3 separate regions of the Homo sapiens genome follow, and regions 2 and 3 are each linked to region 1. Evidence: fine-mapped expression QTL. A gene starts in region 1. Each other region holds a variant in brackets. All regions are shown on one strand. Distances are from middle to middle.

Region 1 (10,237 bases):
TTCCCAGGACACCTCCAGCTTCTTCCTCTGGCAGCTCCCGAAGCTCAAGTCCTTGAAGGATGGGGAAACAGGCATAGCCCTAGGCCCTACTGCATCACGGGACTGCCCAGTCTACAGGAGCTGAAGCTGCAGGCACTGCAGTCTCAAGCATGCCCCTGCCCAGTGCGGCTTGAGGAGCTGGTGGGTGAGTTGCCCAGGCTTGATATGCTGCAGCTGTCCCAAACAGGGTTGGAGACACTGTCTGCTGCTGCTTTTGGGGGCCTCGGCAGTCTCCAGGTCTTAGTACTAGACAGGGAGAAAGACTTCATGCTGGATGACAGCCTCCAGGAGCACAGTCCTCGGATGCCCCAGTACATCTATATTCTGACCTCATCCTTGGCCTGCCAGTGTGCCAATGCCTGCGTGGGGCCCTGGCTTTAGCAGTCCCCCAGAACATACATGCACATAGTATCACAGCAGCTGTGCCATTCAGAAGCTGGGGGCCACTCAAAGAATCTCTTTTTCCCTTTTCTCTGGAGCCACTGCCCCAAGACTTTGGGGTTGGAGCTCTTTTTTGCGCAGCTCTGCCCTGCTGCTTCTGCTGGTCTCCTTGCCCTTCCTAAAGGAAGCCAGGAATTCCTGGATCCTCTAACTCAAGGCCTTGCTCAGGGTTTGGTTCCAGAGTCTGAGGAGTCAGAAGGGTAAAGGCAAGAGGTTCCTCTATGACGTGTTTGTGTCCCACTGCAGGCAAGACCAGGGCTGGATGGTGCAGGAGCTGCTGCCTGCTCTAGAGGACTGCCCTCCAGCTGGCCGGGGGCTGCCACTCTGCCTCCATGAGTGGGATTTTGAGCCAGGCAAGGATGTGGCTGACAATGCAGCAGACAGCATGGTGGGCAGCTGGGTCACGCTCTGTGTGCTGAGTCACCAGGCCCTGCACACCCCCTGCTGATGCCTGGAGCTCCTCCTGGCCACCTCCTTTCTGCTGGCTGTCCCCCACCCCCCAAGGGCTACTGCTGGTCTTCCTGGAGCCCATCTTACGCCACTAGCTCCCTTGCTGCCACAGATTGGCCTGGTTGCTCCGCTGAAGAGACTATTGCATGTGGCCCAAGGAAGAGGAAAGAAAGAATGACTTCTGGGCTTGGTTAGGGAGCAGGCTGGAGCACCCTGGGGTAGGGTAGAATGGGTGCGTGTGTGTTGGAAGGTGGGGGTAAGAAAAGCAAGCCAGCTTGGCAGGGAGATAGTGAGTATGTGTGGGCTATGAGACTGAACTCAGTTTTTAGTAGAAGGTGGGGCTACTGTGTGTGCAAGGGAGAATCAAATGGGAACACAGGCTTTGGGAAGGCTCTGGAGGCTGAATAAGAAAATCTGGGAGATGGCAGGTGGCCATGTGGTACGTAATGTAATCTCAAGATCTCCAAACCCTCAATAAATGTACTAAATCCATGAATGCTTGGCTTGATTGAATTTTTTTTTTTTGAGATGCAGTTTTGCTCTTGTTGTCCGGGCTGGAGTACAATGAGGCAGAAGGTGAAAGGGTTGGATTCACAGAAACTGTAGTCCAGAGGAAATAAGGTTGGAAATTCATGGAGAGAGAGGGCAAAGAGAGAAGCCTTTGGCCAGTCCTAAGCTGTGGAATGGGGTCCAGGTCAAGTTCAACCAGATCTTCAAGGGGCCAAGGGACCCCTTTTGCCATCTGGGTTATAGAGGGATTGGCAGCTAAGGATCAAAAAGCTGGGATGCTGCCCAGGAGACAGCAGACTGATTGCCTGTTCCCTCAATAAAAAACATGAAGGCCTGTTCCCATCTATCTCCAGTTAAGCCTCATAGCAACACTGGGAGGAGAAGCCTACCCCCTTGTCACTCTGTACTCTGACTATGCTAGACTACCTGTGGGTCCCAGGACATCATCACACCTTTTGTCTCTGGGCCATTGCATATGCTGTTCTTGCACTGAAAAATACCTTTTCCCTGGGGAACTCTTAAGTATTATTTAAGATGCAGTTCAGCCATCACTTTCTTCAGAAGCCTTTCCTGATCTCCCAGCCTAGATAACTGTTGCCCCTGGGCTCCCACAATTTCCTGCACCTCCCTTTCTCAAAGGACTGATCACAGGCCTGAAAGCCACAGAAATAGTGGTCTCCAAAGCTGAGTGCACAAGATTATCACACTATGGTTGCAAAGAAACTGTTATAACTTCTATTTCTATTTTTTAAAAATCTTACCTTATTCTGAAGCTAGACTGCCTGCTTTTTTAGCCACGTGCCGTTAGCATGTTATTTAACCTCTCTATACCATAGTTTCCTTTTCTGTAATATGGGATAGTGTTAGACTCTCCCTCAAAGGGTTTTGGATGTATTAAATGAGTTAATACATATAAAGCACTGAGAGAAGGACCTAATAATGCATTGCAAATGTTCAAGGAAAGTTAGCTATTACAGGCACATCATTTATAAGTAAATAAATACACATATGTTGGGAGTGTGTGCTCAACTCAAAAACTCAAAAAGGCTTCACTTATGGGAGCGCTCTATTGGGAAAGTTTAGAGATCAGGCCCTGGGGTCAGAGACCAGGTTTGCTTCATCTCTGCATCCTTAGAGCCTAGTGTCTGCCCAAATCAGAGAGAGTCCTGGTAGACAAATGCAGACAGAACGCTTGCAAACCAAATCCTGATGGGTGCTGAACCAGAGAGAACCTGGAACAGGTTCAGGCTCTGTTGCTTATTTCTACACGGCACTAAAGGGCAGTTGGCCTCTTGAGGACTTCGTTAGTTTTTTCTCTTCTGTAGAATGCCAGGCTTTAATTAGACAAAGGCTAAGGGAAACCATAGAATAATTCGAGGCTGTATTGAGGGCGAGGCGCGCCCTCTTGTGTCCTAATGATGTCCTCTCCTCTCTCTGCACACTCGCCTCCCTTCTTCCTCTTAGGGCAGATGATGCTGAAGTGGACACGTCCTTACCTGACCCTGCAAAGCTGCCTCTCCAGCTTCAGATCCTGACACTCTCTCAAATGTTTCCGGCTCCCTTGGCACCCCACACTGTTGCACTGTCCCTCCCCATCTCAAACCCTCCTACTTCCACATATGGTCTCTTCCTCATGCAGTGTAGGACCTTTGGAGTCACATGCCTAGGGGGTGACAAATCGCAGCCCTGGTTCTTATTGGCTCTGTGATCTTGAGTAGGTCACTTCGTTTCTCTAAGTCTCATTCCCTCTTTGTAAAGTGGAGCAAACAATACCAATCTCATAGGGCTACTGTGAGACTTCAACACCAAGGAGTATTTACGGGTTGTTATTATGTTTACTGAGTAAAATCACATGAGTTATTACTACAAATAAGTTGGAACATGTTTCACAGAGAAGGAATTTAAACTGGGTCGTTAAAGCTAAGAATTCTCCTATTTTAACACTAGCCAACATGCATTGAGCTCTTACCAGATGCTAGGTATTGTCAATTTTCCCTAAGCCGCATAACCATTGGTAATAATAATAATAGCTAATGATTATGTATATTATTGTATTTTCTATTTTTTAAAATAGAGACGAGGTCTCACTTCGCTGCCCAGGCTGGTCTCAAACTCCTGGACTAAAGCGATCCTTCCGTCTCAGCCTCCCAGAGGGCTGGGATTACAGGCATGAGCCTCCGTGCCTGGACTAGCTAATGATTATTAAACACTTTCTGTGTGTCAGACATGTGTCACGCTCTTTACATACCTTCTCCCATTTATTCCTCTCAACAACTGTCTCAGGAAGAGGCAAGTATTATCATTCCCATTTTACAGCTGGGAAAATGCAGGCATAAAGAAGCTAAGTAATTTGCCCAAGGTTTCACAACGCGGGTGGTATGACCTGCATCCTTCATTTGAAAGTAAGAACTTTCAGACACAAGCAGCTTGACTTCAGAGACTTTTACCTAAATAGTCTCATTTAACCTTCATAACACCCTGTGATGTAAGTTCTCTTACATTACTTGCATTTTATAGATGAAAATTCCAAAGACAAAATAGATGGCAGTAATTTGTTCAAGGCCACACAGCTGCGAAGTAGTTGAGTTGGGATTTGGATCCATGTCTGACTACAAAGCCCCCATTCTCAACACCACATTAGATTGTTCATGCCCCAAAGTATTCACAGTGGTACAGAGCACCCGCATTTATATGAGGATTATTTTGTAATAATGATTAACATTCTTCCAACACCTAGGAAGTGCCAAGCTCTGTACTAACTGATTTACATAATAATAGCTAACAATCGCTGTGCATTATTAGGAGCCAGGCCCTGAGCTAATCGTTTTAGGTGTATTATCTCATTGAAAGTTCACAAAACTCTGTGACATGGATGCCATTACTACCCTCATTTTATGGTTGAAGAGAACGAGGTTCAGAATTCTTCCAAAGTCACACAGCTTAGCTGTAAGCTGGAAATTAAAGCTACAACTGTCCAGTTCTCTCCTGCCTATCGGGCTGGTCACCTCTAGTCATTCTCTCTTCTTATTTCTTATTGTGTCTGCTTTGATCTTTCAGGGTCTGAGGCTCTCACTTCGACCCCTCAGTAGAACTGGGCCCCCTTCTGCTCGAGTGCCCTCCCATTGGGCGGTGCTGTTATCCGGAAGCCTATGGAAAAGGCCAGGATCGCAACAGGTCCCGCCCCCATGTGTCGCGCCCGTTCCGATTTGTTCCAGTGCCAGGGTCCGTTAGAAGATGACATATCTATTGGCTGAAGACGTCTGAAAGGCAGCAAACGGAGGGGGCCGCCCCCGGCGCTCGCGCGGTTCCTTCTGGGAATTGTGGTCTCAGACGTTCCATTCCCAGGGTGGCGCCGCTCGGACTCCGCGTCCCAGCATTCCCCGCACGAGCCCGGGAGCACTTCCGCCCTGTTGTGAAGTGGGTGTCTCGGTGGGTGAGTCCGGGTGGCGGGGCGGGGGCAGCTGAGACGCAGGCTCTGGGCTGGAGACTTAGGAGGTGGTGGTGACACAGGGGGCTGGGGAAGGTGAGAGGGGAGAAAGAAGCTTATATGTGGGGGTGGAGGGTGAGGGACGGTCAAAGGATGTAGAGGCCGGAGATGGGAAGGGTCATACAGGGGTCGGGGATGAGGAGGCGATAGAGGGCCCTGGGAATGAGGAGGGCCTTAGAAGGGTCTGAAGGTGAGGGGGTTGAGGGAGGTTTTGGAGGTGGGAGAGTCATAGAAAGGTCTGGAGACCACAGAGGAAAGGATAGAGGGTCTGGGGCCCTGGCAAGAAGTGAAGAGGGCCTGAGCTTGAAGCCCGACCTTAAAAATAGTGTTTCAATCTCTACCTTCCCATCTAGAACAAGCATATCTAATTTGTTACCTCCCTAATGATTGTTACCTCTGGAACCCAGTGGATGGGACTGGCTATTGTGTTCTGCCCCAAACCTGCACTTCTTTCCTTATGTCTTATGGAAGTCAGTGGCACGATCATCCCATTTACCTACCTACCTACCTACTTACCCACTGATTCCTCTTGCATTCTTCCACGTCCAAGGATCTTCCGATCTTTAATTTCTTTAATATCTTTTCAGTCGGCCTCTTTCTTGTAGGGTTTTCGCAGAAGCCTTTTCAGTTTCCCAGCATGAACACACACATTGCACCTAGTGTGATCTGTTTCACCTACAAATCTGATTATGCCTTCTGCTTGAAAACTTTCATTGGCACCCAGCACCTGTAAAGTCCAAACACCTTGTCCTTCATAAACTCCTTTTGCAGCCTAATCTTCATGCACCTCACACTCCAGGGCTGTCAAGGTTTTCCTCGTTTCCTGGGTAGGCCATTTGGTTTTCCATCATTATATATGCTGTTCTCTCAGCTTAGAATATTCTCTCCTTGCCCTTCACCTTCTTTGCCAAGAGAACTTCTTTAACTTAAAAAAATTTCAACTCTTACTTTGCTCAATTCCCTTAAGCAAATTAAGTCACCCCCAACCCTCAGCTCCCATAACTTCTCCTATTACCACATTTGATCATAATTATCTGTGAAGTGTGTGTCTCTTCCATTAGACTGTGAACATCTCCAGGACAGGAACAGTGTCTCAATCACCTCTGTTTCCCCATTGCCCAGTCTAGAGCAGTAAACACTTGATGTAAAGCAGTAAATACTTGATGTATGTATGTGTGAATGAAGACCATGCAGGGTAAGCTTTGCTATACCAGCCTTGAAGACTTCTATTGCCAGTGGATTTCCAGGGCAGGAGCTTTAGTCTTCCTCTGCCTGGCAAGGCTATCTGCTGGAAGCTGAAGCTGATTCATTGCCAATGGGAGTTTAAGCCAGGGGTGACAAATACATGGAATGTGTGCTGCCAGTGCCCCTTCCTGTGTCCCTGGCAGTCATGGCTAATTGGTTGGTTCTCAGCACATATTCACACTGTACTCAGAGCCCTCAGCACACTACTCTAGGCAGCCACTTCCAGTTGATTGAAGTTTCTGCTTTAAATGAAACCTATTTGCTCTCCCTGGCTTAAGCCCTTATGTGTGAGGTCAGGTCAGACTGCTTTAAGCCATAGCTTGGACTGTCAGCCAAATGGGCCTGACAGCCTTTAAGAGTTCCCAGTTTTTTCTCTTTGGAGGTCACAGACCAGTCTTGGCCTTTCCTGTGGAACTGGAGAGCATCTTCTCTTCCCTTTTCACTGAGTGGGCTCCTCATGACCACGTTCATACTTACTGCCCTAGGAGTCAAGATGCCCCTCAGCTTCCCTGTGTTTGTAAAGACATCTTGATTTTGATGGCAGTCAGCACTTATCCCTCATGACCTGGGAGGCTCTGTACTCTTTCTAGGTCTTTCTGGATATTGGAAGAGAGCTTTGAGATCACTTAGCTGAATCTAAGTGGCAAAGCGACAGCCCATGCTGAATGAAGTCCACCATCATGCTTTATTTAATCTCATAGTGTGTGAAAAAATTTTGAGTTGGTTACCAACATTTAAAAATCCAGAGTGCTAGTTTCTTTTGGAAAAATCAGCAGGCTTAGGAATATTCTGGGCATATGTTCCCCTGGCACTCTATAGTTGGCTGTAGTGCCCACCCAGTTCATTTCAGTCATTGACTCATTTACATTGCTAGGTCCTTATACCCATTTAAACTTGTAGCCACTGACTCTAGTCTCCCTTCTCCCTTGCTCTACCCCATCATACTAATTGGGGAACCTAGGGCAACTGCTGAGTAAGATCAGGCTGTAAGCTGCAGCCTAGCTAGGCAGCCACAGGGGCTACATAACTTGTCCAAAGTAACACAGCTGATTAGTGGCAGGAGTGGAACTAGAACCCCAGTCTGCTCACTCCTGCCTTAATGTTCTTTCCATTCTCCCGTACTGTCATCTTAAGAGTTTGGATGACTAGCACACATAGAGGAGGCTATAAGACATGGTTAAGAAAAATGATTGGAGAAAAGGGATCTCGGCTTAGACCCTAACTCTACCACTTGCTAGTTGTGTAACCTTAAGTGAATCTTCATAAACACTCAGTTTCCCTTTAGGTAATTGAGGATATAGTGCAGTCATACCTTATCAGATAATAATATTCTAAGGGTGAAAATCACTTTAGCCAAAAATCACAGTTAGTTTGAAAATCCTTTGGCAAGGAGCCGTTTCAGAAACTAACACGCTGCCTTTCAATAAATAAACTAATCAGCACAGCTGGGCTTTCTTGTTTGAACATTAGATGAGAATTCGCTTGTATTAGGGACTGTGCGGTATGAAAGACACTTTACTCACACTTAGTGGAAAGAGAGGCACGAGGGAATCAAGACCAACCTGGTGAATAGCGAAGTCCTAGGTGCCACCACCACATGCTTATTCTCGAACAGATAGTGAACGCAACTGGCTGCACTATTTAAATCATGCTCTTTCTCTCTTTCTTTTTTTTTTCTTCTTTTTCTGAGACAGAGTCGTGCTCTGTTGCCCAGGCTGGAGTGCAGTGGCACGATCTCAGCTCACTGCAACCTCCGCCTCCTGGGTTTAAGCAATTCTCCTGCCTCAGCCTCCCGAGTAGCTGGGATTACAGGTACGAGCCACCACGCTTGGCTATTTTTTTTTTTTTTTTGTATTTTTAGTAGAGACAGGGTTTCACCATGTTGGCCAGGCTGGTCTCGAACTCCTGACCTTGTGATCTCCCTGCCTCGGCCTCCCAAAGTGCTGGGATTACAGGCGTGAGCCACCGCGCCCGGCCCTCTTTCTCTCTTTCTGATCTTTGCAGTGGAAGTTACAGATCAGTGAAATGCAGCTCAACACCTAATGAGACTCCAGTTGCTGCCTGGAGGCTTCAGTGAGATTATGAATGTGGAACACAGCACTGTGCCTGGCACCTTGTGGGCACTCAGTAAAGGGGTACTCTTAGAAATTGCTGGTCCTAATGAGGCTCGATATTCCTGGTCATCTCGGAACTGAGGAATGCCCCGGTCCATTTTCCCTTGTTCACTTCTGTGTGAAGTCACCCGGCTGTTGGCCGACTCTGTTGGCCTCCCTCTCCCCACAATAGCCTGCTATCCATACTTCGGTCTAACTTCCTTAGAAAGTTACGGTTATGGTTCCTTAGAAAAAAAAGGTTATGGTGATATGTGGTCCCTGGGGCTTTCCGATTTCTATTTGAAACAAACCTTTGGGACTTTCAAGTCTTTCCAGGAGAAAATACCTATTATCTGAGACTCTGAGCTTTGGGCCTGGTGTGACTGCTAATTGCCTATTTTGTTGTAGTGTCCTGTTTGTGCAGGAACGCAAATGTCTTTGCTTGCTTATTGACTGTCTGTCTCACTAGACTGTAATTTTATTGAAGGTAGGGACTGTCAGTCCCAGCTACTGGTAGATCTGTAGCTTCCAAACAGGGTATAGCTGGTACTCTATAAATGATTGATGAATTGCTCCTTGTGTGAGAGGGTGACAGAAATGTGTTTGAACTCATGCATCAATAAGGTTGTGGTTCAAAAAGAAATTTCATGAAAGGCGAATTCTTTAGGTTCAAAAAGAAATTTCATGAAAGGCAAAATCTTTCTACATATGTGATCTCTCTGAGTGCTTATAGCAGTAATGTAGGTAGACAGAAATAGTTTAGTTTAATATAAATTATGGAATATCTGTATCCCATTAGGCTTTTGATACGCCAGGTTTATCATTTTAATACATGGTAATAAAACTTTTTAATGGCCCTGCTATTTATCAGATACTGGGTTGAGCACTGTGGATACAGAAATTAGTAACATACAATACTGATTCTAGTAATATAGTATAATGTGGGTGTCAGATATAGTAACAGGTAACTACAATAGTGTAGGATAATACCTATATTAGAGGTATGTACCAATTGCTTTGGTGATATAGGATCAGGGAGGCAATTCTTGGAGGGCAGGACATGAAAAGGGCATGTCAAGGAACTCCTATCAAAGGAGGTGACATTTGAGCTGGTGGTTGAAGGATGAGTAGGAAGCTGCCAGGTAGCCATGAGTTGTGCTTTAAGCCTCTTCCTAAGCATATGGAGGCCTTTAGGGCAAGACTTTAATTTTTATTACCCTTGTCTTGTTTCTCTTCAGTCCAGTCAGATTGCCCAAAATGAAAAATACCACCATCTCTCCATTCTCAATTCAGTTGTGTCATTCCCACTTGGAAGCAGCTAATGATCTCCTTTGAGTGGGCATTTTTTATGTCACCCAGACTTGTTGGGATGACACAGAGAGCTCATTTTTTCAAATAACCCAGCATGGGTGCCATCAGAGAGGCTGTAATCTCCTCTGGGACACACATAGATACGCACATCCTTCTCATACAATGTCTCATACAGTGTAGAAAGTGGTAAGTGTCACAGAGACATGGAAATAAAAGAGAAAGGAATTCCTTTTGGCATGAGCGCGAAGGTCATTTATTTTTTATCTAGTGTGCACAGAAAGGGATTAATTGCAATCCTTGCTTAATGACACACCATCATCATTAGTCAATCATTCGTGACTTTATTATTTATTGAGTACTTCCTATATGTGCTGAGCACTGTGCTAGGTCTCTTGGGAAGCTAATGATCTAGTGGGTAAGAAAATTACAGTAAAGCATGATCTGGGCTATGGTAGAGAAAATGTAAGATGCTATGGGAGCTTGTGGTCGAGGACTGAATCTTGTTTCAGGGTGCAGGGAAGGCCTTACGGAAAAAGAGCAATTTAAGCTGAGACCTTGCTAGCTGAAGGAAGGGAGGAGACCATTCCCAAAGGAGACCTTCCCAAAGAGGGGAAGGTTCAGAGGGCAGCGTGGTGTAAGATCTGGAAGCTGTGCTTCTGGA
Region 2 (10,237 bases), 930 kb after region 1:
AAAGTGCTATTAGGAAAAGGGATGTATTTCTTAAGCAGGATGGTGAGCACTTATTCTGTAGGTCTGAAATAGTTCATACTAAAATTTTTAAATTGTGATCTTGAAATTTTTGGGCAAAATTGTAAATGCTTTCATCCAAGTATCTTTAAGACTTGAGAAGATGGGATTTTTCATGGGGATTCCTGGAGTGGAGGACACTATTTCTGAAAAGTGTCTACCAAGGAGGCAGAAACAGTGACTATGTCAAGAACGGTGATTCCTGGGAGGGGCCTGCAGGCCTTAGGTGAGGCTCTGAGGAGGGAACTTGGGAATGAGAAGGTGTCCTGTTTTAGGAACTGTCAGTCAGGATTCTTTCAACTGCAAATCGTAGGAAAACCAACTGCATATTAAAACAAATAAAATAAACACATTGGCTCATATGATTGAAAAGTCCAGATACAGTTTTGGTGTTAGAGCATGGTTTTTTAACCTCATTGCTACTGACATTTTGGGCTGGATGATTCTTTGTTTTGGGAGCTGTCCTGTGTACTGTAGGATATTTGGCAGCATCCCTGATCTCTACCCACTAGATGTCAGTAGCACCTCCCCCACCTCCCAAGTTATGACAATCAAAAATGCCTCCAGATATTGTTAAATGTCCCCTTGGGGAGAAGGAGCAAAATCCCCCCCAGTTGAAAACTAGCTTTAGGAGACCTGACCTGGTGACTCAATTGATGTCACCAGGACCTGATTTCTCATGATCAAGGCACAGATAAGCCAAGACCACAGAAGGCTGTGGTCTTGGCTCATCTTCAGGGTACACATGGTGGACCCTGGTAGCTCCACACTCTCCCCTTGTGTCAGTAAAATGGCCATCAAAATTGCAGACCTCACAGTCTCCCCTAGACCTGACTGCCTAGGGGAAGAGAAGTGGTCTTTTTTTGGTCATTCCCACAGAACAGAGACTGCATCTTCCCACGCAAAATCCTCAGCATGTTTCCTCGCCTCTCTCTGTGCTGATTGTTTGGGTGCTGTCCTAGTCCACTTTGTGCTGCCATAACATAATACCTGAGACTGGGTAATTTATAATGAATAGAAATTTATTGGCTCATGGTTCTGGAGCCTGGGAAGTCCAAAAGTGAGGGGTCAGCATCTGGCAAGGGCCTTGCTGCTGCATCCTCCATGGCAGAAGGGCAAAGAGAGAACAAGAGAGAACAAGAGATTGAACTTGCAGCGTTATCCTCTTTTATAATTCATAACTAGCATTAATCTATTTATGAATGTGGAGCCCTCATGACCTAAACGCCTCCCATTAGGCCCCACCTCCCAATACTGTTACATTGAGGATTAAGTTTCCAATATATGCTTTTGGGGGATACATTCAAACCATATCATTTCACATCTGGCCCCCAAGATTTATGTCCTTCTTACATATAAAATATATTCATTCCATCTCATAGCCCCAGAAGTCTTAACTCATTCCAACATCAACTCAAAAGTCCAAAGTCAGAGTCTTATCTAAATCAGATACAGGTAAGACTCAAGGCAGGATTCATACTAAGGCAAATTTCCTTCCAACTGTGAGCCTGTGAAACCAAGAGAGTTACCTACTTCCAAAATAATGGTGAGACAAGCATAGAATAGACATTCCCACTCCAAAAGGGGGAAATAGGCAAGAAGACAAGGACAACTAGTCCCAAGTAAGTCCAAAACCCCAAAAGACAAATAACATTAAATCTTGGGGCTCCAGAATAATCTTCCTTGATTCCATGTTCCACCTCTGGGCACACTGACATGGGGGTTGAGTCCACAAGGACTCCAACAGCCCTGCCCCTATAGCTTTACCAAGCTCAGCCCATATAGCAGCTCTTACTGGCTAAAGTCAGGTATCTGCCACTCTCCCAGGCTGGTGTTGCATGCTGGTAGCTCTACAGTTCTGGAGTTTTGGGGGTGATCCCATCCTCATGACTCCACTAAGCATTGCCCTCATGGGACTCCCTGCAGTGACTCCACCCCTGGGATGAGTCTCTGCCTGAGCATCCAGGCTGCCTGAGATATCCTTTGAAACCTACATGGAAGAAACTGTGCTCCACAGCTTTTGCATTTGCACACCTGCAGACTTAACACCACATGGATGCTACCCAAGATTTGCTGTTTGCTTCATCTGAAACTGTGGCCTGAGCCACACCTGACCCCCCTTGAGCCACACCTGGAGTGACCTGGGAGCATTTTGCCAAAATTTCAGGAGCAGAGACTTGAGGCAGCTCTGGACAGTGAGCCTCAAGGTCCCCAGGGTGCCCTAGGCCTCTTTTTTGGCATACAGTCATACATCACTTAATTCAGGGCTAAGTTCTGAGAAATATTTTATTAGGCAATTTTGTCATTGTGTGAACATCATAGAGTGTACTTGCACAGACCGAGATGGTCCAGTTACTACACACCTAGGCTATAAGGTATAGCTTATTTCTCTGCTACCACCAGAAGTCATTTGACTTTGGCATTCTGGGCCTCTGGTAGGAAGAACAGCACTAGTAATCTACAAAGTACCTTATGGTTTGTTCTTCCATTGTCTTGAAGAATAGCCTCTGGCTTCATTTTATGCATACTAATCTTGTTATCAGTCAGTGGCTTGGCCACAGCGTTGGTTTTCTCTCCTGAAAATGCTCTTTCATTCTCTATCACATGACCAAACTGAGCATCCTTCAAATCCCTAAGTTCTGTTTCCTTTTAATTATAAATTCTCTCTTTAAATCATCTCTCTCATTTTATTGCATGCAGTTAAAAGAAGCCATGCAGCTTCTTAAATATTTTGCTTAGAAATTTTTTCCACCAGATACTCTAGTTCATCGCTCTTAAATTCTGCCCTCCATAAAGCCCTGGGGCATAGACACAATTCAACCAAGTTCTTTGCCACTTCATAACAAGGAAGGCCTTTACTCCAGTTTCCAATACGATATTCCTCTTTTCCATCTGAGACCTCATCGGAATGGCCTTTGCTGTTCATATTTCTACCAACATTCTGATCATAGCCACTTAAGTAATCTCTAAGAAGTTCCAGATTTTTCTTCCAGTTCTTCTTTTTTCTGAGTCCTTACCAGAATCCCCTTTAATGCTCCATTCACTGCAATACAGGGTTTTTCTAGCCTGCTCCTCCAAACTCTCCCAGCCTCTGCCCATTACCCAGCTCCAAAGCCATGTTCACATTTTCAGGTATTTATCATAGCAACACCAACTTCTCCAGTACCAATTTTTTGCCTAGATCCACCTTGTGCTGCTATAACATAATACCTGAGGCTAGATAATTTATAATGAATAGAAATGTATTGTCTCATGATTCTAGGGGCTGGGAAGTCCAAGACTGAGGGGCCAGCATCTGGCAAAGCCCTTGCTGCTGCATCGTCCTATGGCAGAAAAGCAAAGAGAGGTCAAGAGAACAAGAGATTGAACTCTCAATCTCAAGCCCTTTTATAGTTTGTAATCAGCATTAATCCATTCATGAGAGTAGAGCCCTTATTACCTTAATACCTCCCATTAGGCCTTACCTCCCAATACTGTTGCAATGGGGAGTAAATTTCCAACACATGCTTCTGAGGGAACACATTCAAGCCATAGGAGGTGCCCATGGCTGAGTCAATCCCTGTGGTTAGAGGGAGAGAATATGCTGATTGGCCTACACCCATCAGGACCCACTGCTGGAGCTGGGATGGGGCCACCTCTCTGTCAAGCCACATGGCTGAGGAGGGAGGTAGAGCAGCTTCCCAAACCTGCCCAAGCACCATTCCCAGAAGGAGAGAGTGCAGCCACTGGGCATCCAATGAGTGTCATTACAGGATGTTAAAAAGGCAATTTCAACATAATTGATGCTGCCTACCAAAGTGAAGAGGCTGAGAACAAATTTCACAATCCTTAGACCTCTCAGCAGGACCTCTGATCAAGATGAAAATATGCAAGAGAGAGTTAAAGAGTGACTAGAGTTGAAAAACAAAAAGCCAGTGATGGTGGTCTATATTACCTCCTTCACCTGCAGCTATAGAAGTACCATTAATGGGACCCATAGAGGCCCCACAATGTGGCCCCTGGAGTGGTGGGAACACTTAAACTGATGTCTGACTCCCACACAAACTACTGTGGAATCTCAAGTGAGAGGCAGTGCCTGTCAGCCTGAGAAAGCAAAACAGACAGAACAATGTAGGCAGAGATGGGAATCCCTACCTCAGCAGGACAAACTGAGCCCCACTTTCTCAGCAAGGACAGTGCACTGTCCTGCAGCCACCCAGATTTTCTAAGAAGCAATCTGAACCTGGGCAAAGATATTCCAGTGAGTTGATTCTGCTGTGTGGCAGATAGTGCTGCAAAACTGGAGGTTAAGGGGTCTTCATGAGGCTGGAAGAAGGTGTCCAGAGAGGAAGCCTCAGCCTACAGACCTATGTCTGCTTCCTGGAGACACTCCCTCTTCCTCCTACCCCACCTTCTACCAGTCAAACCCTGAAAGGGTCAGAAACCTCGGAAACTCCCAGGTCA[G/C]CTGGCAGAGAAGGAGAAACACTGGGCTGGGAAGCCAAAGACCCCGCTGCTTCTCCACTGTAAAGGACCCCTTTAGCTGGCATTAAAACAAGTCCAGAATTTTTATTATCTAGGAATAGACCATTTTAATTACTGAATTGAGACTATTTGCGGTTTAAAGTGACCAGAGATCTTTTTATTACCTTAAAGCCGGGAGAAAATTATGGGGCCTGCCTGACACAGACATTTCATCCTCAGGCAAGGGAAAAAATGGGCCTCACTGAATAAATTTTAAAAGAAGAATGGGAGCAAAAATAAAACTGTTCTTCGGTCGTATCTTCAGGTTGCGCTCACTCAATGAGCAGGCTCCATGTCCTTTAATGGAGCCCACGGAAGAGACTCCAGCAGGACTGTGAGCACAGATGACAGACTGGGGGGCAACCCCACTGCCTCCCACCCAGGGAGGCTGAGTCTGATTCAAGGGCTGCAGAAACTCCTGCAGTGGCAATCAGAGCAGGACTGGGGTTCAGGGAACAACCCCCAGTGCAAGGTCAGGTAAGAGCAGGGGTAGAGGCCCAGCAGGCAGCAGCGATTGCAGACAAATGTCCCCTAGCAGAGAATAGTGCCCCGGCAGAATAATTTAAAGACCACCCTGGGACATGCCTAGGGAACTCTAATTTCCCATCTCCCCACAGGGCCTCATCTAGATTACCAGGTTAACACTGTGATTGTTTACTTTCTGCCCTGATTTTCTTGGCCTCTATCCCAAAGCACTGCGATCCAGGAAGCAAAAGTTACAAAAAGTGCTGGTAGACTAGAGGTTGAAGGATCCTTGCTGAGGCCCTCATTTCCCCTTTCTCCAAACAAAATCACACGCAGGTACCTGGTTCCTCTCTCACCTCCATGAAGACCCTCAAGGGCATGGCATGCTGCTCCTAAACGCTCTCCACTGCCTTCCTGTTTATTGTTCTGCTTTGGCCATTAATGGGGCAAACAGCAAATGAAACTGTAATAATCAGTCCAGTCTTAATAAAACTAAGGCAATAAAGGGCTCACAGAGCCATCTCCCGTTCTGACAAGTGTATGCTAATTGCATTCTGTCTCCTTGCAAATTACAGCTGTTCCTCGGGTTTTTAAAAATTTGACATTTCATTTTGATTGCAGTGGCTTTATGTTTTCTCTAGCACTGGGAAAGGGGAGGGGGCTGGTAGGGCTGAGCACAGACGCTGACCTCATAAGGGGAGTGCAGATGCTGCTATAGGCTCAAGGCCTTTGGGAAGAGTTATATTTTTGAACTTACAGCAACAAGTTTGAACCTAGATGATACACAGGGCATTTCTGCTTCTGGCAGATTTAGACGAAGTGGATCCAAATCCTCAAATTTCATACCTCACGTGGATCCAGGGCCCTTTCTGTGATTTCCCCAAATTCCTGACTGTACTTCTCTCTGGAGCCCTCTAGTTTTGTGCCTCTGGCTGAGTGAATCATTCTGACTTGTTTGCACATTAACTGGTACACATAGCTCAAGAAATCCAATCGCAGTTGTGATCACATGAGGTCACCGCCTTGTCTGAGGTCTTGAAGAGTTACAGCAGGATTTCCATCTGGTGTAACATTCTGCCACGTCTGTAGTTCAGAGGTTCTCACAGGGTGGGCCAGGGAGTACACAGGTGTCTGAGAGATCTAAACTGTTTTCATAACCACGCCAAATGTGGTTTGCATTTTCCACTCTCATGCTCTGTCAAGTGCACAGAGAAGTTCTCCAGCATCTACCTGATGCCTGATGATGTCACTGATTGGAGGGCCAATGAAATGTGTGCTTGCGCATTCTGGTATCTTAAAATGTCCTCAGTTTGAATTACCAATATATTTTTTTAAAACCAATGGGTTTAAAAAAACATAAAAGTTTTTGGAGTCTTCCACAATTTTTTTTTTGAGACGGAGTCTTGCTCTATTGCCAGGCTGGAGTGCAGTGGTGCAATCTCGGCTCGCTGCAACCTCTGCCTCCCAGGTACAAGCAATTCTCCTGCCTCAGCCTCCCAAGTAGCTGGGACTACAGGCGCTCGCCGCCATGCCCAGCTAATTTTTGTATTTTAGTAAATACGGGGTTTCATCATGTTGGCCAGGATGATCTCGATCTCTTGACCTCGTTATCCGCCCGCCTTGGCCTCCCAAAGTGCTGGGATTAGAGGTATGAGCCACTGCACCCGGCCAGGGTCTTCCATAATTTTTAAGGGACCAAAGACTGCATACTGCTGTTCTAGTGCACTCCCTCAAGCCCTGCTTTCATTCAAACCTGCTGCTCCTGCCAAGAGACCTTGACCTAAACATGCAGCCCCACTGGGAGGGATGGTCCAGTTAGCCCTGTTCCAATTGCCTCTCGAATCAAGAGCCCTGTGAGGCTGCTCTGCCTTCCACAGCCTTCCTGGAAGTCTGGCAAATTAACTATTTCTCCATCTCAGTATTAAGCTGTCCCAAATCTTGCAAAACAACTCACCAAGACTCGTGACATTCTTGGGAAGGAATGCACCACATTCTTGAGATCATGCCTAAATCCTTCTTCATGGCAAAGTTTAGCGTGAAGGGCAAGTTTGTTACTGCCCATTTTACAGGGGCAAAATTGAGACTCTGAAGACAGATGGTAGAGATTCTTTTAGAACCCTCTAATCTGTGATTTCTTAACATCCACACCACAAAGCCTCTTGAAGTCAGTTTGAAATATTCTCTCTCCCTTCCCCCATGCTTTTGCTTTTTCCCCATCTCCTCTTCTCTCTTCTCCTTCCTTTCTTCTTGCCCCCTCGCCTTCTTCCCTTTTGTTCTCTTTCCCTCATGACCTTCCTCTAAACTGGTTAAGGTGCTACCATTTGTATCTTTGTCATGCTTTCCCTGGAAATAAGAGTGAAATTCAATAAATGCAAATGGCAGAGAAATCCGGACAATGATGCTTCGACAGAATCAGGGGGCCGGCCCTGTCAACATCATTGCATAGCTGATTCTGGGAAGAACCATAGCCCTGATATGAATTCCTCAGCTCCCTAAGTCCCCAGCTCTCAGTGGAAATGCAAACTGCCACTCTCCAATCTCCACTCAGCCAGCAGCCATGAGGTTTATCTGCCCCCCTCTAATCCCCTTAATTTTTCCCACTGGCCCTATTTCCACCTCGTGCCTGAGCAGAGGTTTCCCACTAATGTTGCAGATAACTCACCCTTTCATTGAGTCCTCTGAGTTGGGATCTGAGGAGAGAAAGGTAAGTAAGATCCAATCTTTGCCCGAAAGGAGTGAACAGGCCAGTGAAGAGACAGATGCACCATCAGATATAGATGGTGCGGTGGGATCCATGAGTGAATAGAAGCCTGGATCGATGGTCACAGGAAAGTGGACTTGGCTCTTCAGTTTTGTTTTTTTTTTTAATTCTATGTCTGCTGGAGGACTGATGGAGGGGGGTGAGAGAGTAAGACAGGCAAACAGAAGATTAGGAATTAACTGAGGAATTAACCGGGTTACTTGAGAGGACTCAGGAGCCCAAACTGCAAAGTTAAGGTTACCACAGACTCCAAACTACAGTAATATCTCAGGTGCCTGAAAGTGTTTTTTTTTTGTTTGTTTTTTTGTTTTTTTGTTTGTGTGTGTGTGTGTGTGTGTGTGTGTGTGTGTAGGAGGGGCAGGTGGCAGAGTGAAATAGAGACAGGACTATCTAGGCTGTTTTGTGGAGGCTATATGGGGTCATGGCTAAGGACATTGGCCATGGAGTTAGAAGAACCCGGATTTATAAACCAGCTCTGTCACTTACCAATCTGTATGACTTTGGACAAGTCTTTTAAGCTCAATTGTACAATGGGAACAAGGATAGTACCTACTCATAGAGTTATGATGGTTATGTAAATTAATATATATGAAGTTCTTAGGAAAGTGGCTAAAATGTAAGAGGCAGTAAATCTATAAATGTTAGCTGAAATGATTCATGTACAGCATTTAGCATAGTGCCTAAAGCATGGTGGCTCACCCATTGGAGGAAAGGAGCTTCAGCTCAATCCAGGGGCTCAGGTCCTCAGGGACAACAGACACCAGGTGTGATAGGACCAGGTTTCCAGACCCCCTTCATCCCACTCACCAAGCAGAAAGGGGCTCTAAATACACTAACAGGCAGGACTGTAGGATTTGGGGATGGCGTTTGGAGGTGCATGTTAGGTGGTGACAGCTGAGGTAGGCTGCAAGTGGCTAAGTCTGTCTCTGGACATCCGTCATCAGTGGTCACCCTGTGATGAGGCCCATAACCAGGCCTGGGCACATTAGGGCAGCCTTCACCAAGGACGCAACATTTCGGTTACATGTGAGAAGATAAGTAGGCGTTTTCCAAGATTATGTATGAAACAAGTCACATAAATGTCATTCCTACCACACTTCTTGAAATAGCTTCGCATAACTTTCTAAAATACTGATTCATGCTTTTTAAGGTTGAGCTTTATTATTACATTGTTGAAATCTAGTTTATTAACAAAGCTAAAGCTGATTGGTAATAAGTGAGGAACACTAGTCTTATAAGTGAAGACATTTAGACCTGGAGACAGATACGTATAAATTATTTTATAGTCTCGATCAGAAACTCTGATACATATGTATAGCTGCAGTTTACAAGTCATTTCTAGCTCATTTAATCCTCAAAAACACCCTCTGAAGTGGGTATCAGTACCCTCATGTTACACCTGTGGCAACAGGGAGCTCAGTTCTTTGCAGCTTCTGCCTGGGGCCATGAAATTCTTCTATGGACTTTTGGGCAAATGAGTAACAAGCCACCCATGCTCCCTCAGTTGGCTCCTTGCTACTTTAGGTAGTGACTGACAACCAGCCAGTTGGAGCTTGCTATGCTATTGTGACCAACATCAAGGCACAGCCAAAGAGCCCCTCTAATAAGTCTTGTTCTAAATTATTAGGGTCTCTGTTATACGGAGAATGGACAAAGCGCTTTGGAGTGGTCATTTTATGTGTCAACTTGGCTAGGCTGCAGTCCCCAGTAACTCCATCAAGCACAAATCTAGGTGGATATTTTGTAGATGTGTAGTCCATAATCAGTGGACTCAAAGTAAGGTAAATCACCCTAGATATTGGTGTAGGCCTGATTTGATCAGTTGAAAGGCCTTGAGAACAGAGCTGAGGCTTCCCTGAGGAAGACAAATGTCTATCTGTGGGCAGCAGCTCCACCCCACACCTAGGAGTTCCAGCCTGTCCTTTCCAGTGGTCTGCCCTGCAGGTTTTGGGCTTACCTAGCCAGCCCCCAACAGTCATGTCGGCCAATTCTTTGCAATAAATCTCTTACATACATCTTCTACCAGTTCTGTTTTTCTCTTCAAGCCCTGACCGATGCACACCTTTTCCCAAGCATCATCTCTGACTTGGATTTTGCGTAGTCTTCTAACTGGGCCCTTTGCTTTCAACCCTGCTCCTCCAAACCATCCTTCAACCCTGCTCCCCCAAATCATCCTGAGTAGGTACTACCCTTGTTCCCATTGTACAACTGAGCTTAAAGGACTTGTCTAAAGTCATACAGATTGGTAAGTGACAGAGCTGGTTTATAAATCCAGGTTCATCTATTTGGGTTCATTCTATTTGGGTTTTTTGTTTGTTTGTTGTTTATTTGTTTTGTTTTAATGTTTTTGCTTTTTTGACGGGGACAGGGTCTCATTCTATTGCCCAGGATGGAGTGCAGTGGTATGATCTCAGCTTGTTGTAGCCTTGATCTCCTGGGCTCAAGGGATCCTCC
Region 3 (10,237 bases), 100 kb after region 1:
GGTGAAATGATACTGTTTAAAGACTGGATCTCAGCTTTGGAAAGATCTAATCTATCTCAAGGAGAAAAACTGGGCAGGATAGGCCTGCAGAGGTCACTTACCAAGGCAGCGGACTTCAGAGCCACTCCAGAGCCCATTGGCCATGCACTCACGCACCCTGGAGCCCACCAGTGTGTATCCGGAATTGCAGGAGAAGATGGCTGTTGCCCCGTAGACAGACAGTGTTCCGATGCGGTGGCCATTGGGGGGAATCGGGAGCTCTCCACAGGAGATGACTAAAATGATCACAAGATGCTCAGTAAGCCAGCCCCAAGAGGAGGGACATGGCTGCTTCTGCTTAGCAAGAACTGTGACAAAAATAAGACCTGTTTAACCTTACTCTGCTGGAATTCCTGACCAGAATATGGGTTGTGTTGCTGACTTGTGTGATGTGGCACCTCAACTGGAGGTGTCTCCAGAAGCCCCTGAAGGTTATTTAAAATGCCCGGCTCCACTGCAGGTGCCTGACTCACCAGCTTTGCAGATAGCGCCCTGGCCTGTGTATTTTTTTAATCCTCCTCAGGTGGCTGAGATGTGCACTGTGGTTAGGAAGAGATGGCGATTCTGTGGTATGCTCCTGAGTGCCCTGGGCAGACACTGCTAATCAATTTCCTTGCCCTTCTTTTCTGAGCCCAGCAGCCTCACACTCTTTGTCAACAGAGCACTGCTGAGAGCCTCTGGCTGATGTATGAGGTGAGGCCTAATCGCCAAGGCTGCACTGAAATGTGAGTGGCTGCATTGTAGTGAGGCTGCCAAACGCTTGGGACTACTCTGCCACATATGTGGTTACATCCCACTGTGCAGTCTGCACCACAGTGTGCAAAGACAACAGTGTCATGAATCACGGACATTGGCTTTTTTTTTTTTTTTTTTTGAGACGGAGTCTTGCACAGTCGTCCAGGCTGGAGTGCAGTGGCACAGTCTTGGCTCCCTGCAACCTCTGCCTCCTAGGTTCAAACAATTCTTTTGCCTCAGCCTCCCAAGTAGCTGGGATTACAGGTGGGCACCACCATGCTGGCTAATTTTTTTTTTTTTTTTTTTTAGTAGAGACAGGGTTTCACCATGTCGGCCAGGCTGGTCTCGAACTCCTGACCTCAAGTGATCCACCCACTTCAGCCTCTCAAATGCTGGGATCTATGCCCAACCTGGATCACAGGCATTGGAAGACACCATTTCTCCTCCTTCCCAGTTTCAAACTCCCACTTCTCACTGACCACTTCCTTCTACCTCTTTACAATCACTTGCCTCCTCTGTGACATCTGCATTGGTCACATAAATATGATGAGCATATCCCTATCGTAGTGCATGCTGCGATGAGCTACTCAGAGCCCCTTTTAGGACCGAGGGACTTATTTCCCCAGCTGCTGGAAAACAACCCTTGGCTGGCAGCCCTTTTCAGATTGCTGTGGTTGAGGAGTCCTCCCACCTAGGAAGGTCATGTCCCATTCCTAGGCCAGCCTGCATCCAGTGGCTGGTCAGTGTGGCAGTATAACAGTTCCCTTGCTCCAACTTGTGACAATTCTGAAGGGCCATCCAGAGCTCCCTGGGGGGTGAGCTAAGGCTTTCATGGATACTGCATCAGAGCTCAATTCTCCTTCTGCCCAGTCCTGCTTCCTTCCCTCCTTTCCCTTCTGTAGGTGGTGTTCTCAAGAGCACCCCCTAATAAGCCTCTGTCTCAGAGTGTCTTCCCAGAGATTCCGACCTTTGAAAGTGTATTAAAGAACCAAAGAAAAACAATTGACAATGGAGAAGGCAGGCAGGTTTAGGTGACCTGTCGCCTGTGCTACCCTCATTCCTCCTATATACACTCCCATTTCAGGTCTTATCGCACCACATTATCATCACTTCTTTATGTGTCTGCCTCTCCAGTAGACTATAAAGTCCTTGTGGGCAGGAACCAAAATCTTTTATCTTCAAACCTCTACAGTGTCTGGCATATAGTAAGAGCCTAAGAATATTAAAGAAATGAATTAGTGCATGCTCATCTGGACAAAAGCAGCTTTTGATAAGATGAGAAGATGCTAAGAAATACTTCCTTAAAGGAGTAAAGGAGTAGGCATTTTCCCAGCTCCTGATTCTACTAGATGAGAGTTTAAAAAGCAGTACACTGCAATCCCTGGTGATACCCCTTTTTCCCCCACCCCAGTTCACTCCATGCATGAGACAGCTTAGGTAGGAGGGACCCTGCTAAACTTGCCCACCCTCCCTTCCTGGGCTTACTTCGGCAGGTGGGCGTAGAGTCCCCGAGGCTCCATTTGCCATTGGCCTGACAGCGGATGACCCTTTGGCCAGTATAGTAGTAGCCAGGGTCACAGATGAGCATCAGCTGGGCCTGGAACTGATACTGTGTCTCAAAGATAAGCCTCCATCGGCCATGCTCCACGCTGATGCTACTGACATCAGGACAAGTCACAGCTGGGGAAATGAGGAAAAGAAAGGAGGATTAATTACTTGATTAATTCTGGAAGACCTTGTAAGAGCCCAGATCTAGGGACTTGGAGACCTTAATGCAATAATGAAGAATCCAGGAATCTTCAGTTCTCAGGCAGGTTTGGTAAATGAACAGGTGGGTTGGGTGGGGGATGTGGCAAACTGGGGAGTACAGTTCTGCTAAAAAATTAAAAATTAAAAAAGGGAAATAGTACTCAGTCAAGGTTGACTATTGAATGTTTGAGTTGCATTTGATTAGATTTTCATTTTTCAAGAGAAGACAGAAATCTGGATTTTAATGTAAAATTTCTTGATTTTAAAAGATTGTGGAGTAATTCAAAATTTGTTATAAAGCACCGTGTAGGCCAAAAAACAAAACAAAACAAAAACCTCTGTCTTTGGATGGGACATAGTCGAGGAGGTTGCCATTTTGTGATCTGGCCTAAAAGTTGTTGTTTTTAGAGCTTTGGAATCAAGGGACATTCATGCAAACTTTCTGACAGGTTTTCCATCTAAAAGGGAGTGGACCAGGCCATTCCTAAGTTCCATGGTGGTTTGTGGAAACATCTTAGGGCACAATGGTTATCAATGCTGAGAGCAGTTTCAGCACCTGCCTCCTCTTCTGAAATCCTCCAACCTCCATGTCCATGTTTTTTTTTTTTTTTCCCCCTCATTACTTTGCTTTTAGCTCACTCCTTGCAGGAATCTTTCCAGCTGCCTACCTAGCCCTTCCTTACACCCGCCTCCATTGCCCGAGGACTCACGGACACACTGTGGTGGGACATTGCGGTTGCTCCATAGGCCTGTGTCCAGACACTCTGCAGTGGCCTCAGCGCCTGCCTGGAGGTGGTAGCCTTCACTGCAGCTGTACATGGCCTTGGTTCCCACTGTGTACTCCTTGCCAAACACCATTCCATTCTTGGGGGCCTCAGGAAGCCCACAGGAAAGAGCTAGCAAAAGGAAAACAATGTCATGAGCATTTGTTTTAAGATGGTATTCTGAGAAACTATTTTTATCCTTCCTCCCCTCCCAAGGTCCTTTTATTAGTAAAAACTAATTAAAGGGTAAAGTATCATAATAAAAAAGAAAATGGGAGGATCATCAGCAGAAGAGTTTTTTCTTCTTTTTTTTTTTAAGTTTGGAAGAAGGAATAAAGATAGAAGTGCAAAGAAGCTGTAGCTCAAAATATATGGGAGGGAGCCTCAGGGTGAAACCAGTTCTCCGCCATCTGTTCCCACAAACACAGTGTAGACACATTCAAGTATCTACTCTCCAAACGAAAGAGAGAATTTTCTTTTCCACTGAGGGGGGATCTCTCTTAGGATGAATTAGGGCTGTTATGGTGGGAGTTGGCATCCCAGAGGAAAGCTCTTTTAATTCTAGGATTTATGGTCTCTTGGCCTAAAGGCTGCCCCATTGCCTACTCAGGTCTGCCACATACTCAACTCAACCTCTCACTGATAGGAGAGACTTTGTGGACCAAGATATCTGTATATAAAAATAACAAACGTAATCCACATCTCATAGCTGGAAAAATCAACCTGGCCCTTACTTTTAAAATACGATCAAGGATCATTATACATGTGAAGAAAATCAGCAGTGCGAACAAGACAAACCAAGATAAAGTTTAAAATAAATGTCCCCTTAGGAAACAGAGCTAATTTAGAAAACAGAAGATACACAATCTTTAAACTTCTGATCAGTAGTATCTTGAGAAAGTCAAGGTGACATACGGTACTCATAAAATAAAATCAGTGTGCTCTGAAGGAAAAAAAAACAAACAAAAAAAAAACAAGGACAAACTCTTTGAAATGAAAAATATGATTGCCGAAATAAGCATTATAGGATTAGAGATGAAAAGTAAATTTCTCAGAATATAGAAAAAAAAGAGACCGAAAATGAGAGAAAATGACAGAAAACACGGATCAATCCTCAATACAGAAGGTCCAGCATCCAACTGTTCAGAGCTCCAAAAAGAGAGAACACAAAAAGTGGATGGGATGGAATTATCATAGATGAAAATTTCTCAGAGCTGAAGAGAGACACAAGTCTTCAGATGGAAAGGGAGCCAAAGGAATGCAAAGAGAATCCCTCTTAGATTCACCATCACGGAATTTTGTGTATCTAAGAAGTCCAGAGACACACAGGCATTCCTCCAAATTACTAGAAAGAGGGAAAAAAAAATGACATAACTGTGAAGGAACGAGAATCAAACTGGCATAAGACTTCCCATCAGCAGTGAGTGTTCAAAGATAATGGAACAAAGCTTTAAACCTCTGAAGAAAATGATTTATAAACTAGAATTTTACCCAGTCAACTGACCAAACATGTGTGAGGGCAAAAAGATAGACACTTTCAGACATGTAAAGTCTCAGAAAATGCACCTCTTGTGAACCCTTTCTGAGGAATTTACTTAAGGATATACCCCATGAAAAAGAGGGTGAAAACCAGGAAAGGACAATATATGAGATATGAAAAATGACAGAACTAACTCAAGAATACAAAGAAAAGGAATCTCAAAGGGACAACTCAGGAGAGAAATGTTTGCAGCAACATGGCCAGGATTATTATTTTATAAGGAGTAGGGTCGACATTATGTTTATAGGAGGAATAGGAATTACTTAGGCAAGAGTAGACTGTTTGGTCTTTGAAAGAAAGTAATACTTATAAATCATCCTTGCTCTTTGACAGCTCAGGGGGTATTACAGATGGAAAGATTAATCCGTCAAAGTACCCACTACTGCCTCCATCCACTATCCCCTCTGGCTACTAGTCTAGAGCTCAGAACTTTTTCGCTTAGAGCCAGAATAAGCTTGGGCAGAGTCCCATTGAGATTGCCTAACAAGATGCTTGATGCTATAAGAATTTCCAGAACCAATAAGAGGCATCAGGCTGGGGCTCCATTATGAATGGAGGAGGGTAGACTGTTCAGAGGGAGAGAAGTTGGAATACCAAGATGGAAGAAGGATCTAAGTGTGGGACTTTCCAGAAGAGGAGGATCAGGAACACAGAAGGAATGAGAAATAAGAGAGTGTTTAAACATGAGACTCTTAATGACTAATCAGAAAGGCTATGAGCTCCTTCAGTGGAACTAGGTTAGCTAAGCTGTCATATTACATCAACTACCTGCCCAGCTTCCTTAAATCCTTTGGGAAGAAATACTTGGATCTCCACTGGTGTCTTGCATGGAGAGTCAATCCAGGGAGGGCAGTGAAGGAAGTGGGCGGCAGCCACTTCTCACAGGCCCTGGCCTGGCCTTGCTCTTGTAGATAACTAAGGGGACAGAAGATAATACTCCAGCCTGAGATACTAAAAGCCTGTGTCTCATGATCTCCATGCCAAAATGCAGTCCCCAAAACCCGGTGGTAAGAGGGACACTTCCTGTGGGTAGGAGGAGGAGGGGATACAATCACAAAGTATTTGAGGCTTGTGGTGGAATGAGATCTCTGAGGGAGAGAGACACAGGTGAGAGAGTGGGCTGGGGAAGGAGAGAGAAGGCATTAGGAGGCATAGAGTCTCTAAAGGAAGAGTGGAAAAGTCATGGTTTGGAAACAGCAGTAGAGAAGTGGAATAATGCCAGGCCCTTCCTGGCCCAGAATTCTGTGGGAAGTAGGAGGTGGGTGGAGGGGGATTAACAATCCACTTGAAAGGGCCACAGCATACGTGCTCTCAGAGGACAGCCATGGTCTCCATGGAGGGAGGAAGTGAAGACAGCCAGCTGGGTAGGGACTGAGGGTGTACGCTTGCTGGCCACGGAACTAGGATTCCAGAGAACACAGTGGGAGGCTTAGAGGAAGGGCATCAGTGGGAGGCAAGGGGTGCAGTGGGGAGAAGACATGCACAGTAGTA[T/G]GGGGATGGGTCAACTGAAGTCTGGTGGAGGCTTAATTTTGGGTGGTGATGTAAGGTAACAGAAATGAGAGGCTTAGTAGGTTCCAACTGGCGCTCCGGAAAAAAGACTTGTCCTTGTTAATGCAGTTAGAGACGCAGAGACCAAAGCCAAATGCCATTTGCCATTTGTGGACAGCCAGTTCACTGTGACCTTTGCTTAGGGGTAGAGTAGATTATTAATAGCACATTGTTTTTGTTCTTTGAGAAAGCACAGGCACAGGCGAGAAGGTTGTGAGGATTAGAGATGAGAGATGTCATTAAAAAGTACTTCACCACTACTGGGAACCAAAGGAAAAATCAAATAGCAATGTGATTTCCTGTTTTTGTCTATGTAGTTGGCAATGTTTTCTTCTTTTTTTAAATGCAGTGCCTAACGTTGAGACTGTGGGAGAAAAGACAGTTCTCACATGCTGCTATACATGAGGACAAACTTTCTGGGAGGCAATCAGTATCGACAGCTGTCAATCGCATACGTTATGATGCGAGAATCTCATTTCTGAGAATTTGCCTTAAGGAAATATGTAATATTCATAAAGATGGAATTATAAGTTTATCGTCACAAAGAATATAGAAATCCAAATGACCAACAAGAGAATGATACTTAAATGAATGACAATTTTCTCATAATGCTGTGCAACTATTGAAAATAATGGTGACGAAGTATAATATTAACAATAGAGTCCAGGCGCGGTGGCTCACACCTGTAATCACAGCACTCTGGGAGACCGAGGTGGGCGGATCACCTGAGGTCAGCAGTTTGAGACCAGCCGGACCAATATGGTGAAACCCTGTCTCTACTAAAAGTACAAAAATTAGCCAGGCATGGTGGCGGGTGACTGTAATCCCAGCTACTCGGGAGGCTGAGACAGGAGAATTGCTTGAACCCAGGAGGCAGAGGTTGCAGTGAGCTGAGATCATGCCACTGGACTCCAGCCTGGGCGACAGAGGGAGACTCTGTCTCAAAAAATAGTATATAGTTAAATATACTTCCTCACCATGATTTTCAGTGGTTGCACAGCATTATGGGAAACAAAATCTATAAGAGCTTTGTACACGGATGATCCTATTTTTATAATCAATACATAAAAGACCAAAGGAAATGTGCTGAAATGTTAACAGTGGTGATCTCAGGTTTATTGTTCATTTTCACTTTTTTTCTTTTGCATTATCTACCGTTTTTTTTTTTCTTCTTCAGATTTTTAGTTTGAATGTATATTACTTGAAGGGAAAAAACTGTCATAAATCATAAAATCATAAATCATAAAAGGTAATGCATGCAAATTGACTGACACATTTCAAGTGTTTGATCAACCCACTTGCTCTATGAGCCGGAACCCAAGCATCCCCTCTGCTGGGAGCCCTCCCCAGCTGGCCAGGAGGAAGCAGATCCTTTCTCACCTCTGGGCTCCCACAACACTGATTATGCTCCTGACACGACACTTCCTTCCTCTGCCACTTTGCATTGATGTGCTCACATACCCATCTCCCCCATGGATCTCAAAACACTGAGATTGCTACGCACTACAGATCTTGTAAATGCTTGTGGAAAGAATGAAATAATTATCAAAGAGGAAACCCACATTTGGAAGTGACTAGTCCTGGGACAAACCCAAGATATGAGTTGGATCCGAGCTACCTTGTGACCCCCTTTCCACCTGCTTCTCACCTTGACAGAGAGGGATGGCTTCGCTCCACAGGTGGTAGCCCTGGGGGTGCCGGGTACAGATGGCCATGCTGTGTCCCACCAGGCGGTAGCCGGCGTTGCAGCCAAAGTGGATGGAGCCCCCGGGCTGGGTGCTGGTCTGGCCTAGGATGAAGCCATGGAGTGGAGCCCTGGGCAGGCTGCAGTAAGGGGCTGAACAACAAGATGAGGTTCAGGGAACTGGCACCAGCAGGAAGACAGACATGGTCTTTCATGCAGGCCCCTTTCCCTTTCGTCTCCCCCCCATCCCCTTGTCTTTGCCACTGCCACATCCTCTGCTGTTGAGGAAAGTCTGAATGGTGGATATTGAAAAACACCCAGTCAGGTTGGTAAAGCCGAAACAAAACAACGGAAACAAAACAAAACAAAACAAAAAAAACCAGCTTCATGAAGCACTGGGTCCCTTTTGCGGTCCAAAGGTAGATCTGGTGTATGGCTAAGTTCAGGCTCTCAAATCCCTTCAGCTCCGAAACAGACTTAGAAAGTAGAACCCAATGGGGTTGGTTCCAGAAAGCTGCGACTGCGGGGGTGTGGACTTTGACCTTAGTGAGGGCTGGGCTCCAGTCCCGTTTCTGATCTGACCAGTTTCTGTAACTTGGGGCAAATCACTTCAGCTCCAATTTCCTCGCCTGTAAATTGGGACTGGTAATACCCACCTCACAGATTTTTGGGCAATTTAAGCTGTATATGTAGATTGCGTACATAAAGCCCCCAGCACAGCATGGGGCACTCACTGTTCAATGCTCAGTAAGTGGTCATTGTCCTTCTTTGTGCTGTGTGGGGGAATGTGCTGAGACTGACCTGTGGCAACCTGGGACACACATTTCCCTACAGTGCTCATTTCCCCTCCACATATGGCTTCAACTTATTTCATTCATTTATTCAACAAATAGACATCAAGTATCTATTATCTTCCAGATATTGTTCTAAGTGCTTGCAATACAACAGTGAAGAAAACAGACCAAAACCCTGGCCTGGGCTCACGCCAGTAATCCCAGCACTTTGTGAGGCTGAGGCCAGTGGATCACTTGAGGCCAGGAGTTCAAGACCAACCTGGCCAAAATGGTGAAACCTCATCTCTACTAACAATATAAAAATTGGCCAGGCGTGGTGGTGCGTGCCCGTAGTCCCAGCTACTCGGGAGGCTAAGGCAGGAGAATCACTTGAACCCAGGAGGTGGAGGCTGCAGGGAGATGAGCTCATGCCATTGCACTCCAGCGTGGGTGACAGAGTGAGACTCTGTCTCAAAAAACAAGCAAACAAAAAAAACAAAACAAAAAATCCCAGCCTGAAAGGACTCACATTATAAAGCCTGCCAGGGATCCTCAGGGGGAGTTCTGTGAGGCCAGGAAAGAGGGATGACCAAAGGAGCAGGCAGATAATTCTCTTTGTTTGCCCTAGGAGTCCCTGGTGGGGTCTTCCAGGCAGAGATGGATAAGGCAGGATGCGCGTGTGGGGCCCTTACAGCCACCCCTGGTGAGGTCCCCGGCCTCTTTCTTGGTGATCATATCCGTCTGCCGGTGAAATGGTTGTTTTAAATAGCTGCCTTCCAAGCCGAATTTGTTTCCCTACTCCTGCTTTGCCCGCTGTGTCCTATGTGTGCTGTATCCACATGGTTACCTCCCTCAGGAACAAGAATCTCGGTTGTAAAATATACTTAGTCACAGTGACAGACGCAGGTGCAAATTACACTCATCTACTCGATCTGAATTATTAAGTACTAATTGTTGCGCCATGTAATTAACTCACTTTCTACGTGGCATATGTATTGTAATTACAACTGACTCATTATCCCCAAACACGTTAGAACATCAAGGAAAGGGTAACTCCTTAATAACGTTCAGTTCCTAATTTAGCAACCAGCATAGTGAAATGCTACCAAACTGCTATATTTCCTGTTTGAGTGAGCAGCTGCCAGGAACTCAGCCCTAAGAGGCACCTTAAAGTTTCTTTTCCATCATGCGGACACTGAAGCCTGAAGTGGTTAAGTACCTTGCCTAATAATCCCACAGCTAGTAGGTGAGAGAGCTGGTCACTGACATTGGGGCACTCAGTCATTGCAGCCACCCAGACCCCTCTCCGTGTGCACCAGGGAAAGGAGAGGTTGGATGGACTTTGCAGAGGATATGGGCTCTGAGACAGTCAAGACCCACCTTCTCCCAGGGGCCCTCAGCTTCC

Which allele goes with the higher level. Positions count from the first base shown, and alleles are read on the strand shown. Sizes are in standard deviations (SD) of each study's normalised expression.
For the expression in monocytes of the gene that starts at base 4,827 in region 1, C is the low allele of the variant in region 2 and G is the other (large effect, 2.0 SD a copy in Fairfax 2014).
For the expression in aorta of the gene that starts at base 4,827 in region 1, allele T in region 3 goes with a lower level than allele G (small effect, 0.25 SD a copy in GTEx).

Evidence for each region.
Region 2: its variant is fine-mapped to the expression of ZSCAN20 in monocytes (Fairfax 2014, PIP 0.95).
Region 3: its variant is fine-mapped to the expression of ZSCAN20 in aorta (GTEx, PIP 0.95).

What each region holds. Positions count from the first base shown.
Region 1 is chr1:33,467,819-33,478,055 of GRCh38, forward strand. It overlaps ZSCAN20 (zinc finger and SCAN domain containing 20), which reads left to right and starts at 4,827. Exons shown (of 8, transcript NM_001377376.1): 1 at 4,827-4,873. It also overlaps the pseudogene TLR12P. RefSeq lists enhancers at 349-875, 876-1,400 and a silencer at 2,790-3,084.
Region 2 is chr1:34,401,328-34,411,564 of GRCh38, forward strand. No RefSeq gene overlaps it. Among named protein-coding and RNA genes, the nearest start is that of C1orf94, 230 kb to the left of the region's middle. The variant G/C (reference allele first, on the strand shown) is at 4,501.
Region 3 is chr1:33,569,273-33,579,509 of GRCh38, forward strand. CSMD2 (CUB and Sushi multiple domains 2) reads right to left here. Exons shown (of 71, transcript NM_001281956.2): 49 at 8,024-8,212; 50 at 3,234-3,419; 51 at 2,260-2,454; 52 at 102-275. Among named protein-coding and RNA genes, the nearest start is that of ZSCAN20, 100 kb to the left of the region's middle. RefSeq lists an enhancer at 4,887-5,056. The variant T/G (reference allele first, on the strand shown) is at 6,319.